Regions from separate parts of the Homo sapiens genome. Here region 2 is linked to region 1. A link means that fine-mapping ties the variant in region 1 to the expression of a gene that starts in the linked region. Tissue or cell type: fibroblasts. Region 1 holds a variant in brackets; the other region holds the start of a gene. All regions are shown on one strand. Distances are from middle to middle.

What was found. PIP is the estimated chance that this variant, and not a neighbour inherited with it, causes the effect.
Region 2: HAPLN3 starts here. The variant in region 1 is fine-mapped to the expression of HAPLN3 in fibroblasts (GTEx, PIP above 0.99).

What each region holds. Positions count from the first base shown.
Region 1 is chr15:89,132,886-89,140,985 of GRCh38, reverse strand. The region is part of intron 3 of ABHD2 (abhydrolase domain containing 2, acylglycerol lipase); the gene reads right to left. It also overlaps the pseudogene HMGB1P8. Among named protein-coding and RNA genes, the nearest start is that of ABHD2, 48 kb to the right of the region's middle. RefSeq lists enhancers at 425-924, 925-1,426. The variant C/G (reference allele first, on the strand shown) is at 4,227.
Region 2 is chr15:88,892,061-88,900,149 of GRCh38, reverse strand. It overlaps HAPLN3 (hyaluronan and proteoglycan link protein 3), which reads left to right and starts at 4,606. Exons shown (of 5, transcript NM_178232.4): 1 at 4,606-4,691. MFGE8 (milk fat globule EGF and factor V/VIII domain containing) reads left to right here. Exons shown (of 8, transcript NM_005928.4): 7 at 339-494; 8 at 618-1,467. The coding sequence ends at 755. RefSeq lists enhancers at 2,492-2,541, 2,478-2,772, 4,769-5,380.

The DNA.
Region 1 (8,100 bases):
CAAAAAAAAAAAAGTGAAACTAAACTATTAACTATAATAAAGTTATGCCCTGAGCATCCCTTAGTAACACACTGTCTCTGGGCAAAGGGAGCCAGGCAGTTCTCCCTCAGTGCCACGAAGATGGCTGGGGCTGTGGATAAGCACAGATGGCACTGGTGGCTTGAGGTTAAGGCCATGTTGTGAAACAAAGGAAATGGAAAACAAAAACACATCTTTAAACGTGAAGATACAGTAAGGTGCTCTCTCTCGCAGGAGAGACACACAGGCCCTGGTACCAGCAGAGGTGACGTGAGGCTCCCAGATCACACACAGGGGGGGCCTGTGCTCCTTTGAATGGAGAAGCTGGCAGAAGGGTCAGCACAAATAAGGTGGTGTGTGTATGTGTGTGTCTGTGTGTGTGTGGGGGTCTCTCTCTCAATCTGTAGAGTTGAATTTGCATAAGTTAAATGTACATATGTAACTCCATTATATATTAGAAAGCATATCAAGATAATAGCTAACTATATTGTAACGTTAAAAAAAAAGAAGAAATTCATCTTTAATTTATCACCTGCCTAAATTCCAAAGCATCAGGTACAAGAAGGAATTTCAAGCACAGAGAAGTGTTTTTGCTGGATTCTGTTGGGCAAACACAGCCACCTCCAGTATTTGCCTGGAACTTACTCTAGAGGTTTATTTAAAAGGTCATCCAGCAAAATGAATGGCTATCTTCTCCAGGGCTTGTGACCATAAAATGTCAGGTCCACAGGTCTTTCAGTAGAGCTTGAGGAAAAGAACTGCTAACATAGCACGTGAGTGGAAGCCTCACAAGTCCACAGGCTCTGACTGTTCCTAACACAGGCTGCTCAGCTCTACACACCGGCTGTGTCACTTTACACTCTGCCCTCAGACTCCCCTCTCTTTCTGCAAAACCCAAGTCCAAAGGGACTCTTCAGCCACTGAGGCAAAACGCAGAGGTGTTACATCATCCTGGGAAGCCCTCCCAAGAAGAAAACTCTCTCCATCAGGGCTACAGAGACCTGCTGCGTGGCTGCTCCAGACAACTGCACACTCAAATGGCTGGTGATGTCCTCTGCTGGCTGCGTGCTGAAACTCCGGTCAGATTCTAGTTAGGTGCCAAGACTGTTAGGAGACATAGGCTCGGGATGTTTCCTCAGTTTCCAGAGAGAATGCCCATCTTCACAGGCCCTCCACTCTGCTTACTTGAGTGCACACACTCAAGGGAAGAAAAGCAAATTTTTCATTTCAGAAAAAAATATTTGTCCACTGAGAAAAAAAGGTGACCTTTACTCTGACAAACAGATTTGTTTTCAGAGTGACAACATGGACTGAGGATGCCCAACTAGGAGTGTGCTGCTGGCACCTGGGGCCAAACCAAAGATGTTATCAGGTCCGAACCTGCCTCTACCTATATTTTATTTTGGCTCTTATATATTGATTTAATAAAATTCAACAAATACGAGTGCTGTGAGGCATACAGAGATTAGAGCCGGACACAGTGACCGCCCTGGTGGCATTCGTAATCTGAAGGTAGGATGCATGATGAATACACAGGCAGCTACTGTCACAGACAGGAGCGGTGGGCAATGGGGTCAGAGAGATAGAATAGGATGATACTATGGGGAGACAATCATGAGGCTGAGAAGTACCAATTTCACTTAGTGCATCATGGGGAGTACCAAGATCTCAGAGAGGAGAGATATTTCTGAGCACCAAATCTCTCCATCAGGAGCTGGGTGAGTCATGTCTCTAGTTTATTTATTTACTTATTTTTAGAGACAAGGTCTTACTCTGTCACCCAGGCTGGAGTGCAGTGGTACAACTACGGCTCACTGCAGCTTTAACCTCCCATGCTCAAGCAATCCTCCCATCTCAGCCGCCTGAGTAGCTGGGACCACAGGCACATGCCACCATGCCCAGTTAATTTTTTTTTGTAGAGACAGGGTCTTGCTATGTCGCCAGGGCTGGTCTTGATCTCCCGGGCTCAAGCAATCCTCCCACCTCAGCCTCCCACAGTGCTGGAATTATAGAAGTGAGCCATCCTGCCCGGCCTTCTAGCTTAATCTTCACAATTCTGAGCAATGGTGTCTTCCCCGTTTTAAAAATGAGGAAAAAAAAAGAAAAAAAAAAAGCTAGGATTAGAGGACAGGTCTCTGATTCAGTCCAAAGCGTTCCTTACTTTATCACACTCAAGACTCATCAACTCCCCCAACCAGAAGTTAAAATAACAGCTTTGTGCCTATTTTCTCCTGTCTGATCAACTGTCAAAATGTTCTATATTAAATAATGTTTCTTCAAATTGAAAACTGAATTTGTTGGAGCTTCTCTACAGTGGTCTTCACAGGTCTTTGAAAAAAAACATTTCTTTCGTTTTGCATGTTTCTCACAACTGTAACTGACTTCTTGTTAGAGGAGTTTTTTTCTGCAGAAGATACATCTGGGGGCTAATTAATTTGAATATTCACATTTAATTATCTCTAAGATAAGGCCAGAATGTTAACAAAATCATACTGAATATCTCCCCAAAGATCCAGGAGAGCGATGACAGTGAGAGCAAGAGAGGATGGAAGTGCTTCTAGAAAGGTGACAGGTGTTTGATTTGGGGATACATTTTTACCCTACTTTCATGGGTGAGAATAAACCCAGGAGGACAAGCATCAGTGGTGGGGGAAACACTGGGAGTGAAGCTTTGTGGCAGCTCCACGAGTCTGCAAACTGAGTTCCAGGCCTTCCTGTGTGTGCACATGTGCATGTGCATGCATGTGTGTGCACACAGGAAAGGTAAGGAAGCCGGCAAGGGCCAGAGTTTAGGAGAACATTTTGTCAGTTCTTTTCCAGATCCTGAACTGCCAGAGCCTCCCTGCTCCACAGGCCTGGAAGCCAGGGCCCTTGCTGCTCCTACCACAGACACCTCTGGTTTCTTTTCTGGCCTATCTACCCCTAGCCTGGTGGACCTGAAGCCAGCAGGTCAACAGCAGGTCCTTCGTGAGCCCATCCCACTGGGCTTCACCCTTCTCCACTAGGACACAGCCCCCACTGGAAGCCCTTCTTTTCAGGAGGGCCAGATGTGGAGTAGACCCTGTGTGCACATCTCACCAGTCCTACTGGGGAGGTAAGGCTGAGGCTGGGAAAGGGCTTCCTCATTAGCTTCAGGAACAAACACCTTGGGCCTTTCATCTCAAAATGGCAGCAACATATTCAGCTTCCCAAACACCCATTAATAGGCTCATCAGAAATCCACTTTGAACACAGCATTTTCCCCTCACTGGAGGCAAATTCTTCTCCACAGCTGTCACACATTACATTTTCACTGTTGTTGCTAAATGCTCTATTCCTGAATTGCAGGATCTGCACAGGAAAATTCCAATGCAGAGACTGTTTCTGCCTGAAATGACCAAAAGTGGCCTGAGGAAACAAAAGAGCAATCCTCTTCCGTTCCCGAACTGGTTTCTAAATACAGGACGGAGGCCACTGGGCCAGGCTGGTACATCTGTGACCTTTGTGCATATCGTGCAAACTATAAAATATGAATGTTAGGAGAACAGCCCCATGAGTTACAATAAAACCACTTAAAAAGAAACTACTTTTTTGCTCCAAGGAAAAATAAATGTGCTTTTCTAAAGTTCAAAGAAAACCAGTTAAAACCCCTCAGAACTGTATCCACATGTTAAATGCATCTGATCCCACTATCTTCCTGTTCACAAACAGCACGCGGAACTGGTCACATCCTCCCTAGGCACACCAAAGCACAGTCCTCTCTCCTCACGTTGCATTTCAACCTGGTTTTGACACCATGCTTTAAGTAGGGAGGCAGTTTATTAAGAAGCTCCAGAGTTCCAGTCTCCAGGGTTCCACTGGAACCCTGGATCCGTTAGAGAACTGGTCCTGCAAACAGCCAGTCAAAGATTAGTGACCTAACTTTAGGAGAAGGCACCACTATTCCCAGACCTGGGCTGCCAAGGTGCTAAGTGCAAAGTTCCCAGACTCACTCTGTGCTAACCAAACAGGATGTACGCTGACGCTCAGAACACAGAGCACCCGTGTCTTGTCCCCATCTGCCTAGTCACCTCTCTCCTGAGGACATGCACATAGATGCCAATGGTCTGCTCTTTGTCCAACACAGTGCCTTTTGGCTACTTCCCAGGCCAAGGCTACCTCAAAATCTGTGCCAGCGTTATGGGGAGGGAAGATTAGAGCTGGAAAATCACATTATATTTGCCACTATT[C/G]CTAGTGGAGGAAAACTCAAATACCTAAATGTGAAGCCCCTGGATTACCTACACAGAATGCTCTTTTAAGAACACGCTAATCAACTAGGAGCTGCGCTGGCTGGAGAGCAATGTTATAGAGCGGAGAGAGTGAGGAGGCTGCACCTGGCTCCCGATATCACAGCCATTGCAGTACAATGAGCTCCATAGAGATAGCACTGGGGCAAGTGAGAGCCAGATGGGCACTGGGCAATTCTGTGCCTTGCTGAGGAAAAATAACTAAACATGGGCAAAGGAGACCCTAAGAAGCCAAGAGAGAAAATGCCATCATATGCATTTTTTGTGCAAACTTGTAGGGAGGCACATAAGAACAAACATCCAGATGCTTCAGTCAACTCCTCAGAGTTTTCTAAGAAGTGCTCAGAGAGGTGGAAGACCATGCCTACTAAACAGAAAGGAAAATTCGAAGATATGGCAAAGGCAGACAGGGCCCATACGAAAGAGAAACGAAAACCTGTATCTTTCCTAAAGGGGAGACAAAAAAGACGTTCAGGCTGGGTGTGGTGGCTCACGCCTGTAATCTCAGCACTTTGGGAGGCTGAGGCGGGTAGATCACCTAAGGTCAGGAGTTCGAGGCCAGCCTGGCCAAGACAGTGAAAGCCCGTCTCTACTGAAAAAAAAAAAAAAATTGCCAGGCATGGTGGCGGGCGTCTGTAATCCCAGCTACTCGGGAGGCTGAGGCAAAAGAATCGCTTGAACCTGGGAGGCAGAGGTTGCAGTGAGCTGAGATTGCGCCATTGCACTCCAGCCTGGGCAACAAAAGGGAAACTCCATCTCAAAAGAAAAAAAAAAAAGTTAAAGGATCCCAGTGCACCCAAGAGGCCTCCTTCGGCCTTCTTCCTGTTCTGTTCTGTCCTGTTCTGTTCTGTTCTGAGTATCGCCCAAATATCAAAGGAGAACATCTGGCCTGTCCACTAATGATGTTGCAAAGAAACTGGGAGAGATGTGGAATAACATTGCTGCAGATGACAGGCAGCCTTATAAAAAGAAGGCTGCGAAGCTGAAGGAAAAGTAAGAAAAGGATATTGCTGCATATCGGGCTAAAGGAAAGCCTGCTGCAGCAAAAAAAGGGAGTTGTCAAGGCTGAAAAAAGCAAGAAAAAGAAGGAAGAGGAGGAAGATGAGGAAGATGAAGAGGATAAGAATGAGGAGGAGGAAGATGAAGATGATGATGAATAAGTTGGTTCTAGTGTAGTTTTTTTTCTCGTCTATAAAGCATTTAACCTGTACATAACTCACTCCTTTTAAAGAAAAAAACTGAAATGTAAGGCTGTGTAAGATTTGTTTTTAAACTGTACAATGTCTTTTTTTTTTTGTATAGTTAACACACTACCAAATGTGTCTTTAGATATCCCTGTCCTGGTGGTATTTTCAATAGCCACCAACCTTGCCTAGTACAGTATGGGGATTGTAAACTGGCATGGAAATTAAAAGCAGGTTCTTGTTAGTGCATGGCACAAATTAGTTATATATGGGGATGGTAGTTTTTTCATCTTCAGTTGTCTCTGATGCAGCTTATATAAAATGACTGTTGTTAAGTGAATACCACTCTGTAATTGCAAAAAAAAAAAAAAAAAAGAAAAAGTTGTAGCCATTTTGTTGACATTCTGAATGCTTCTAAGCAAATACAATTTTTTATTAAAAATAAATAAAGAAAGAACACACCAATCAAGAGATGACTTTAAGGATTAAAATGCTGACATTTGACATCAGCATTTGTACTACATCTTGCCTTTCTTTGATGTGCAGAAAACAACTCATAAAATGGCAAGCAATGATGTTAGGAAAAAGTAGGTTCTACAAATATTTAATGAAAATTATGTTTCTTTTGTCAGTAATTATATAGATCATTACTAATAAGCCATACTCAAAACTTGACCCCATTCTTGCTCCCAGGGAGTTCACAATCAAGAAAAGGAGATAAGAAAACTTTATAATGCTCTTTCGGGCTCAAAGACTTGAATAAATGAACTTGCACTGGAAAACTTGGCATCACAAACATGTCAATTTTCCCTAAATTACCTATAAACTTAAGAGATACACAATAAAAATAATAAGATTTTTATATGTGGAATTAAACAAGCATTCTAAAGTTCATTTGGAAAAATGAACCAGCTATAATAGCCAAGAAAAGTATGAAAACAAGCAGTGCTGGGGTATGAGCATCGCCCCACTGCCCACAGCAAAACATAGTACAAAGCTGCAATCTGCTGATGGTATATGTTCAGGACCATCAACAGAACACAAAAGACTGGAAATATGCCTAAATACATCCAGGAAATTTAGTTGGTGAAAAAGGTGGCATTTGAATAATGGGGTAAAGATGGATTGTTTAATAGTGTTGGACAAAGTGTAGCCGTCTTGAAAAAAATTATGTTGGAGCCACACCTCACACCAGGATAAATTCTGGAAGGATGAAACATTTCAAAATAAAAATGAAATCATTCATATGCTAGAAGAAATTCTAGGCTTTTAAAAATAATCTTGCAGTGAAGAAGACCTTTCTAAGGAAACCAGAAATCCCAGAAGCCACAAAAGAAACAATTGAAAAATTTAATTATGCAAACATTAAAAAAAATTATGCGGCCGGGCGCCGTGGCTCACGCCTGTAATCCCAGCACTCTGGGAGGCTGAGGCGGGAGGATCACGAGGTCAGGAGATCGAGGCCATCCTGGCTAACATGGTGAAACCCCGTCTCTACTAAAAATACAAAAAAAATTAGCCGGTCGTGGTGGCAGGCACCCGTAGTCCCAGCTACTCAGGAGGCTGAGGCAGGAGAATGGTGTGAACCCAGGAGGCGGAGCTTGCAGTGAGCCGAGATCACGCCACTGCACTCTAGCCTGGGTGACAGAGCGAGACTCTGTCTCAAAAAAAAAAAAAAAAAAAATTATGCATGGCAAATACCACTATGGGCAAAGTCAAAAGACAAATGACAAACTGAGAACAAATATTTGCAATTCATATCACAAAGGGCTAATTTCCCTAGTACATAAAGAGCTCCCTCAAATGATTAGGAAAAAGACCAATGACCATCAGAAAAATGGTTAGAGGCCACCAACAGGCAGTGAACAGAAAAGGAAATAAAAAGAGTTCTAAAATATGAAAAGATACACAGTCTCTTTAATCAAAGAAAGACTAATTAAAACCACAGTGAGAAAACATTTTTCACCTACCAGATTGGCAAATATCAAAAAGTAGAACTCCTGATGTTGGCAACGTTTTGGGGAAATGTGCTCACAGTGCTGGTGTGGAGAGGCTTGAGGACAACAGCTAGCAAAATTTTCCATGCACATCCCCTTTGACCCAGTAGTTCCACCTCTAGGAGTTTATCCTATACTGACAGGTGCGCATCGTGATGAAAATACAGAAGCATTCAATGCAACATTGTGAAAGCAAAAGATTACAAATAAAGGAAACCTCTATCTAGGAGACTGGTTAAACAAACTATTTTTTTATGGAATACGAAGCAGTCAAGACATAAATGGAGGAAGCTCTTTCAGCACTCCTATGGACAAATCTCTGAGTGATATTTCACAAAGAAAAGATGGAAGGATAAACAAGAGCCGACTGACAGCAAGGGCAACACGGAGGGTACAAGGTCATAGGTTCTACTGGCTGATAAAAGAACCTCTGGGAAATGCAGCCAGGCTTCTTGACCAGGGTGAGCCTTGAGCACAAATGTAAGAGGAAGGAAATGATGCAGCTGCCCTGGAGCTTTCCGTCAGAGGAACAGTTACAAAAAGCTGATAGAAGCCACTGTTGATGGCTGTGGGTTAGCCCTGTTGAAATGGCAGCCCTCCCCTACGGTATGTGGGCACAGGAAAACATTTTCTCAG
Region 2 (8,089 bases), 240 kb after region 1:
CTGACTCAGCCTCCCTAGTAGCTGGGATTACAGGCAGCCACCATCATGCCCAGCTAATTTTTTGTATTTTTAGTAGAGACGGGGTTTCACCATGTTGGTCAGGCTGGTCTCGAACTCCTGACCTCAGGTGATCCACCTGCCTCAAGTCTCTCCCAAAGTGTTGGGATTATAGGCATGAGACACCATGTCCGGCCTTATGCCCATTTTATAGCCAAAGAAACTGAGGCTCACCCAAGTAGTTTTTTTCAAAACTAGAATTCATGCCTCAGTGTGTCTGCCTCTTTTCACCTTACTGGAGATGGTCCAAGCAGAGAAAATGTGGTTGGTTTCTTCTGTAGGTGGACCTGGGCTCCTCGAAGGAGGTGACAGGCATCATCACCCAGGGGGCCCGTAACTTTGGCTCTGTCCAGTTTGTGGCATCCTACAAGGTTGCCTACAGTAATGACAGTGCGAACTGGACTGAGTACCAGGACCCCAGGACTGGCAGCAGTAAGGTGGGTGTCTGTCCAGCTGCCCACCCTTTGCCATTCCTTCATTACTTCCCTGGGAGTCTGGCCTGGGGCTCTGAGGGGAGGGGGGCTGGCTCGGGGTCCTCCTGACACCCGCTCTGCCTCTAGATCTTCCCTGGCAACTGGGACAACCACTCCCACAAGAAGAACTTGTTTGAGACGCCCATCCTGGCTCGCTATGTGCGCATCCTGCCTGTAGCCTGGCACAACCGCATCGCCCTGCGCCTGGAGCTGCTGGGCTGTTAGTGGCCACCTGCCACCCCCAGGTCTTCCTGCTTTCCATGGGCCCGCTGCCTCTTGGCTTCTCAGCCCCTTTAAATCACCATAGGGCTGGGGACTGGGGAAGGGGAGGGTGTTCAGAGGCAGCACCACCACACAGTCACCCCTCCCTCCCTCTTTCCCACCCTCCACCTCTCACGGGCCCTGCCCCAGCCCCTAAGCCCCGTCCCCTAACCCCCAGTCCTCACTGTCCTGTTTTCTTAGGCACTGAGGGATCTGAGTAGGTCTGGGATGGACAGGAAAGGGCAAAGTAGGGCGTGTGGTTTCCCTGCCCCTGTCCGGACCGCCGATCCCAGGTGCGTGTGTCTCTGTCTCTCCTAGCCCCTCTCTCACACATCACATTCCCATGGTGGCCTCAAGAAAGGCCCGGAAGCGCCAGGCTGGAGATAACAGCCTCTTGCCCGTCGGCCCTGCGTCGGCCCTGGGGTACCATGTGGCCACAACTGCTGTGGCCCCCTGTCCCCAAGACACTTCCCCTTGTCTCCCTGGTTGCCTCTCTTGCCCCTTGTCCTGAAGCCCAGCGACACAGAAGGGGGTGGGGCGGGTCTATGGGGAGAAAGGGAGCGAGGTCAGAGGAGGGCATGGGTTGGCAGGGTGGGCGTTTGGGGCCCTCTATGCTGGCTTTTCACCCCAGAGGACACAGGCAGCTTCCAAAATATATTTATCTTCTTCACGGGAACTCTTGGTGTGGTTCGTTATTGTTTCATGGGAATGGGATTTAAATTGCGCTGGTTTCCCCATCCCCCACCTGTGGTCCTCCCTGAGCCCCAGCTTGCTTGCTTGCTTTTTTTTTTTTTTTTTTGAGATGGAGTCTTGCTCTGTCGCCAGGCTGGAGTGCAGTGGTGTGATCTCGGCTCATTGCAATCTCTGCCTCCTGGGTTCAAGCATTTCTCCTACCTCAGCCTCCCAAGTAGCTGGGACTATAGGTGCACACCACCATGCCCAGCTAAGTTTTATATTTTTAGTAGAGACAGGGTTTCACCGTGTTGGCCAGGATTGTCTCAATCTCTTGACCTTGTGATCCACCTGCCTCGGCCTCCCAAAGTGCTGGGATTACAGGCGTGAGCCACCGTGCCCAGCCCCATCTTTCTTTATGTCACCTGCCTGACTACACATAGCTTCATAGCAGGAGGCTGGAGACTTTGGTCCAGGGCGGCCTGAAGGAAGTCAGGACTTCCAGGTCCTCAAAACCTGACTTCCCCTCTTCCCTCTGCTTTCTACCTCCATGCCGTCTGGCCCTGAGCCCTACAACTGCTGCCTGGTCAGGGGCCCAGCGAGTGCTGGCAGACACTGTCTCCTGAATGCTTTTGCTCCCTTCCTGCCAGGAAGACTGGCTGGGGCAGCTGGTTTTCCCCTTCAGCAGTTTCCATTCTCTCTGCAACTGGAGTGGTGGGCTGGAGAAACTATAAGAAACTCAGTGAACCTGGATGCCTTCCGAACTGCGGGAGTTCCTGGGGTGGGTGCAGCGTGGGACTGGAGGAGGGGGCCGGGGCTCTGCCAAGTGGGCATGAGGCCTCCTGCCTGAACACACTGGTTCCTGGTAGGCCACTGGCGTGTGTGCTCCAGGGATACCCTCTCTGCCCTCCCCTGTGTGGGGGTCATCAAGAAGTGGGGGTGGGCCTTGCGGGCCAGTGTCTTGGTGATCTGGAAGGGTGACTTGCAGGCAGAGGCTTGGCTAGCTTGGGAAGGGGTGTAGGAAAAACCACCCTCTTTGTCAAGGTGAATTTTTCCAAACTTTGGGAGCCGGCTGTGTTCTGCAGGCAGGGGGTGCATCTGAGCAGCAGGAGGTGGGGCCGCCTCTGAGCAGCAGGAGGTGGGGCCGCCTCTGAGCAGCAGGAGGTGGGGCCACAGGGCTGCCAAAGGGAGGGCGTGGCTTTGCTGGAACCACATCAGGGAAATGTGTCTGGAAGTGGTTCCTTTCTGAGACCTGCGGTTGCTGGGCTCCTGGGCCTAGCAGGGTCTGAATAAAAGGCCCAGGCCGTGGTCTTCGTAGGAACTGAGGATGGGGGACTCCCTTCCCCTGGGTGTCCCTTGGCCTACTGCCTCCCGTTTCAGAGCTCTCTTCTGCGGAGCGGTGTGGATTGGGTTTAGAGCCAAGCCTTTCTGCGTGCTTCCAAGCCTCAGGTCTCCCTCCCGGGGGAGTTTCCTGCCCTGAACCCCTGTTCCAGCATACCCTGGGGATAAGCAGACAGTGGGAGAAGCATCTCTGCTCTGGGATGGGTTGGCCACAGCCTTCTAAAAGTCCCCCTCCTGGGACCCTGGAGTGGAGTCCCCTCACTCCTGACCCCCTCCTTCCTTCCTTGGCTTCTCTCCCTCAGCAGTGTCTTCCATTTGCCCAGCTTTTACCATCACCCCTACACATTGACTTTTTTCTGCCCCACTGCAAGGCAGAGGGTGAGCGTTCAGATTCCACCTGCTGGCTACCCCTACCCCTGGCTGGCATGTTCAACTCGACTTAACTGTAGCAAAATGTGCTCTCCCTACTGTCCATCCTCTCCCCTGTCGGGAACCTGCAGAGGGACCTACCTTGGCTCCCCTTTGCCCATCAAGCCTGGCGTTCCTTTTAGGTGTAGTTTACCTGTTGATCACAGTTCTTTGTGCTCCAATGTGCCCCTGGCTGTGTGTAACACACACACATGCACACACACACACACACTCATGGGCCAACTTGAGCTGTGTTTAGGAAGAGGCTCTGAGCTCTGTGACCCTGTGACCCTTCGACCCTTCCCCCAGCCAAAGCTGAAGGACCTCCTTAGTCTTTTCTGCTGAGGAAACATCGGGCTGTCCAGGCCAGGGCCCCCATTGGTCTGGACAGGAAAGAAAACACCCTGTCCAAACAGAGGCATCCTGAGCGGCTGCCTGGATGGCTGTGCTGATTAGCAGGATTCCGAAGGGAGGCCCACCCCTGTTGGAGGACCACTCAGAAGCCTGATTGCCCCTGCAGGCTGCAGAGGTATCCCACCCTGTGTCTCCCCTCCCAGCCAGGGCCACTCATTCAAGCCCCATGTGCTGGGGATAGCACCTGCTATGTGCCTGACAGTGAGTTGGGAATCTGGCCAGTGTTTCATGATGGCCAAACTCAGGGGCATGAGGACATCAGCAACCCCTTGCTTTTTTTTTTTTTTTTTTTTTGAGACGGAGTTTTGCTCTTGTTGCCCAGGCTGGAGCACAATGGCATGATCTCAGCTCACTGCAACCTCCGCCTCCTGGGTTCAAGCAATTCTCCTGCCTCAGCCTCCCAAGTAGCTGGGATTACAGGCATGCTCCACCACGCCCAGCTAATTTTGTATTTTTAGTAGGGACAGGGTTTCACCATGTTGCCCAGGCTGGTCTTGAACTCCTGACCTCAGGTGATCCACCGGCCTCCACCTCCCAAAGTGCTGGGGTTACAAGCATGAGCCACTCACTGCACCTGGCCTCACCCCCTTGCTTTCTATTTGGAAAAGAAAGTAATACAGAAGTCTCACCCCTTCCACAATCAAAGGTGGGGAGCAGCCTTAGCCCCTAGCAGAATGCTGGACAGGGGCTTCCCCTGCTTACTCCCACTGTTTTTGGTATACCAGGCTTTCTAAGGGGATCCCCCCTCCCCAAACTCTCCTATTCCACCCCTACTCTCCTTTCCCAAGACGTGAGGGCCTCAACTCTTGCACACCCTCTTTGCGGTGGTTCCCAGCGAGTCTGGAGACCGCTCAAGCCTGCAGCAGCTCCTCCCTTCGAGCCCAGCCCTTGGGAGGGAAAGGTGCGCGTGTTCCTTTAAGGGGCTGGTCTGGCGGGAGCGCGGGGGTTTTTCTGCTGCCGCTTCCTTTCTGCCCTTTTAATTTCCCCGAAATCAGACTGCTGCCTTGGACCGGGACAGCTCGCGGCCCCCGAGAGCTCTAGCCGTCGAGGAGCTGCCTGGGGACGGTACGTGGCTTAGGGGTCGCTGGGCTTCTGGGGCTGTGTGCGGGCCGGGTTCCTCCCTTACCGCTTTGGGTGCCCTGCGGGTCCCCACACCTCCCGGGCAGGGTCCGGGGAAGGGGCAGGAGGCGTGGGCCGGGCACTGCGGAGGCCCGGGCTGAGATGGGCTGTGATCGCGGGCGAGGGGCGCCCGGGGCACAAGTGGGGAGGGAGCGGCGCGGGGATGCGGGCGCCGGACCCTCGTGCCCACCGTGAGGGAGCAGAGCCCGAGCGGACCCCGTGGCCTCCGAGACCACCGTCCGCCTCCAGCCCCCTTCCTGCCAGGGTCCGCTTGGCTCTCTCCCCTGTCGTCTGTCCAGGGTCGGCTGCCTCCAGTGCCGTCCGCGGCGCCCCAGGCCCTGCCCCTGGGTATCTGTTGGATGCTCCGGGGGCCCCGGGAGTCCTGGGAGGGGCTGAGGGCAACCTGCGAGGCGGCTGGCGGACCTGCGCCTCTGGACCGCAGCTGGCCGGCTCTGGGCGCCTGGGGCAAAGGCAACTGATGCCTATGGGTTCCAGACCTCGCTCACCGGGGTTCTTGCCCCAGGGACAGCGAGGCCAGAAGGGTAGGGAGGGTGGAGGGCAGAGCCCTGGGTGGGAGATGGCGACCCTCAGGGAGAAACGTAGGCTTGTGCGCAGCCAGTATGGAAACAGCACGGCACTTGGACCCAGTCCTGCCACCAGCTCGTTGGCAGCCACAGGCCACAGGCAGCCTGTAAACCTGTTGGGACCTTGGTGTCCAGCGCTGACCCGCGGGAGTGCCTGTGCTCCCTGGAGTAGGGGGCAGCGATTGAGAGGGGCCCTGGCTTCTCTCCCTCGACGCCGCCCGGGCCAGCGGATTGGGAAACACCTCCGGTTTTCATTCTCCTGGGGGCTGCAGGTTTCAAAGGCGGAGATCAAGCCTTGTGCAAACAGGGACAGGGATGTCAAATTTCTCGCTGGGAGCAGCGCTCGTGCAGACCTCGCGGGCGATGCTGCCTCCTGCTGGTACCTGGGGGACTTGTACTCACGGAAGGCCCAGTGCGGACATGCACCTGGCAGGGAGGTGGCACCTACCCTCCCTCCAAGCCCAGGCTTATTGTTCTTGGGTGGAGGGGTCCCTAGGCTGGGGCGCCTGGGAAAAGCAAAGGGCTGGTCATCAGGAAACCTGAACTTTCTCTAAGTTCGAGATATTTGACAAAGATAACGCCTTGGGTAGTTCACTGACCTCCACTCTCTTGGCCTCAGTTTCCTCAACTGTGAAGAGGAGGCAGTGGTGACCACTTTGTCTCGTAGGCAGTGAGAGAGGAGAAAGAGCCACTGAGATGGTGTAAGACTTCACTGTGTGAACTGCTCACCAGAGTAGTAACAGGTCATATTTTCCCAGTGCTTGCTCCTTATCAAGCATCAAGCAGTATTTTCAGTGCTCTGCAGCTATTCTCTCCCTTAATCTTCACGAGAGTGTTTTCTGTTTGGTATTGTCGTGACCGCCCCCCCCACCCCAACTTTTTTTTTTTTTTTGAGATGGAGTCTCACTCTTCTTGCCCAGACTGGAGTGCAATGGCTCAATCTCGGCTCACTGCAACCTCCGCCTCCTGGGTTCAAGCGATTCTTCTGCTTCAGCCTCCCGAGTAGCTGGGACTACAAGCGCTCATCACCACACTCGGCTAATTTTTGTATTTTTAGTAGAGATGGGGTTTCACCGTGTTGGCCAGGCTAGTCTTGAACTCTTGACCTCAGGTGATCTGCCCACCTCAGCCTCCCAAAGTGCAGGGATAACAGGCATGAGGCACTGTGCCTGGCTTGTGACCCCCATTTTAAAGATGAAGAAACTGAGGCTCAGAGAGGTGCAGCGACTTGTCCAATGACAGAGGGTTAGTAAGTGGGTGGAGCCAGAACTGAATGCAGGCAGCCAATCTGCTTCTAGAGCCTGAAATCTTTGCCATGTTCATTTGTTGAGCACCTGCTGCATGCCAGGGACCAGACATCATACATCTTCTATAATTGTCACCACAGCCCATTTTTTTTTTTTGAGCTGGAGTCTTGCTCTGTCGGCCAGTCTGGAGTGCAGTGGTGTGGTCTTGGCTCACTGCAACTTCCGCCTCCTGGGTTCAAACAATTCTCCTGCCTTAGCCACCCCAGTAGCTGGGATTACAGGCATCTGCCACCACACCCAGCTAAATTTTGTATTTTCATTAGAGATGGGGGTTTCACTGTGTTGGCCAGGCCAGTCTCGAACTCCTGACCTCAGGTGATCCACCCCCTCAGCTTCCCCAAATGCTGTAGGATTACAGGTGTGAGCCACTGCACCCGGCCTTAAGTTCCTTTTTTTTACAGATGAGGAAATGGAGGCACAGAGAGGTGAACTTGCCCGAAGTCACTCAGCAGGATGCAGTGTGTCCAGCTCCAATACCGAGCCCAGGTCTGAGTGCCCAGACAGGACTCCAGAAGATTTGGGGAACTATCCACTGCCAAGGTGACTGGGCTGGACTTGGTCTTGGGCCTTCCAGCTGGTGGCACCTCTGTGGTGGTCCTGAGGAGTTGGTGGCTGGATAGCCATGGTAGGGGAGCAGAGGCTACCCATCCCTCCCCTCAGTGGTAGTGGTCAGGGATGGTCAGAGATGGACCTGAGGCAAGGCAGCAACCAAGTGGCAATTGCCACTCCTGACTCCCACACAGGACTCTGTCCTGTGCACTGACCTTAGCATTCAAGGCTGTGCTTGTCCTCAGCCCCCGAGTTCCCCTTTAGTCTTCTCTGGAGAGAGGAAATTTTCTGTTCAGAGAGGTCAAATGACTTTCCCAGGGTCACCCAGCTAGCAGGTGGCAGAGCCAAGACCCAACCTCAATGAGTTTAACTTGAAACCTTGGGCCTGTGTGCTGCTCCTCTCTCAGAGAGGCCTGGAAAATGGCCAGCTTCCTCCTGGCCTTTTGTTCTTGGGCACAGGGCTGATCTTTTCTTATAATTCCTTTTGTTTTTCTTTTCTTTTTTTTTTGAGATGCAGTTTCACTCTGTCGCCCAGGCTGGAGTGCAAAGGTGTGATCTCGGCTCACTGCAACCTCTGCCTCCCAGGTTCAAGCAATTCTCCTGCCTCAGCCTCTGGAGTAGCTGGGATTACAGGCACCCACCACCACACCCATCTATTTTTTATATTTTTAGTAGAGACGGGGTTTTACCATGTTGGCCAAGCTGGTCTCAAACTCCTGACCTCAGGTGATCTACCCTCCTTGGCCTCCAAAGTGCTGGGATAACAGGTGTAAGCCACTGTGCCCAGCTAATTCCTTTTGATTTTCTTGGCATCCCCCTCAATGTGAGGTTACATTACTGCTGAGTTAGCATCCAACAAAGAGGTGTTACTGATGTCACTTAGTGGCAGAAACGCCTGCATTTG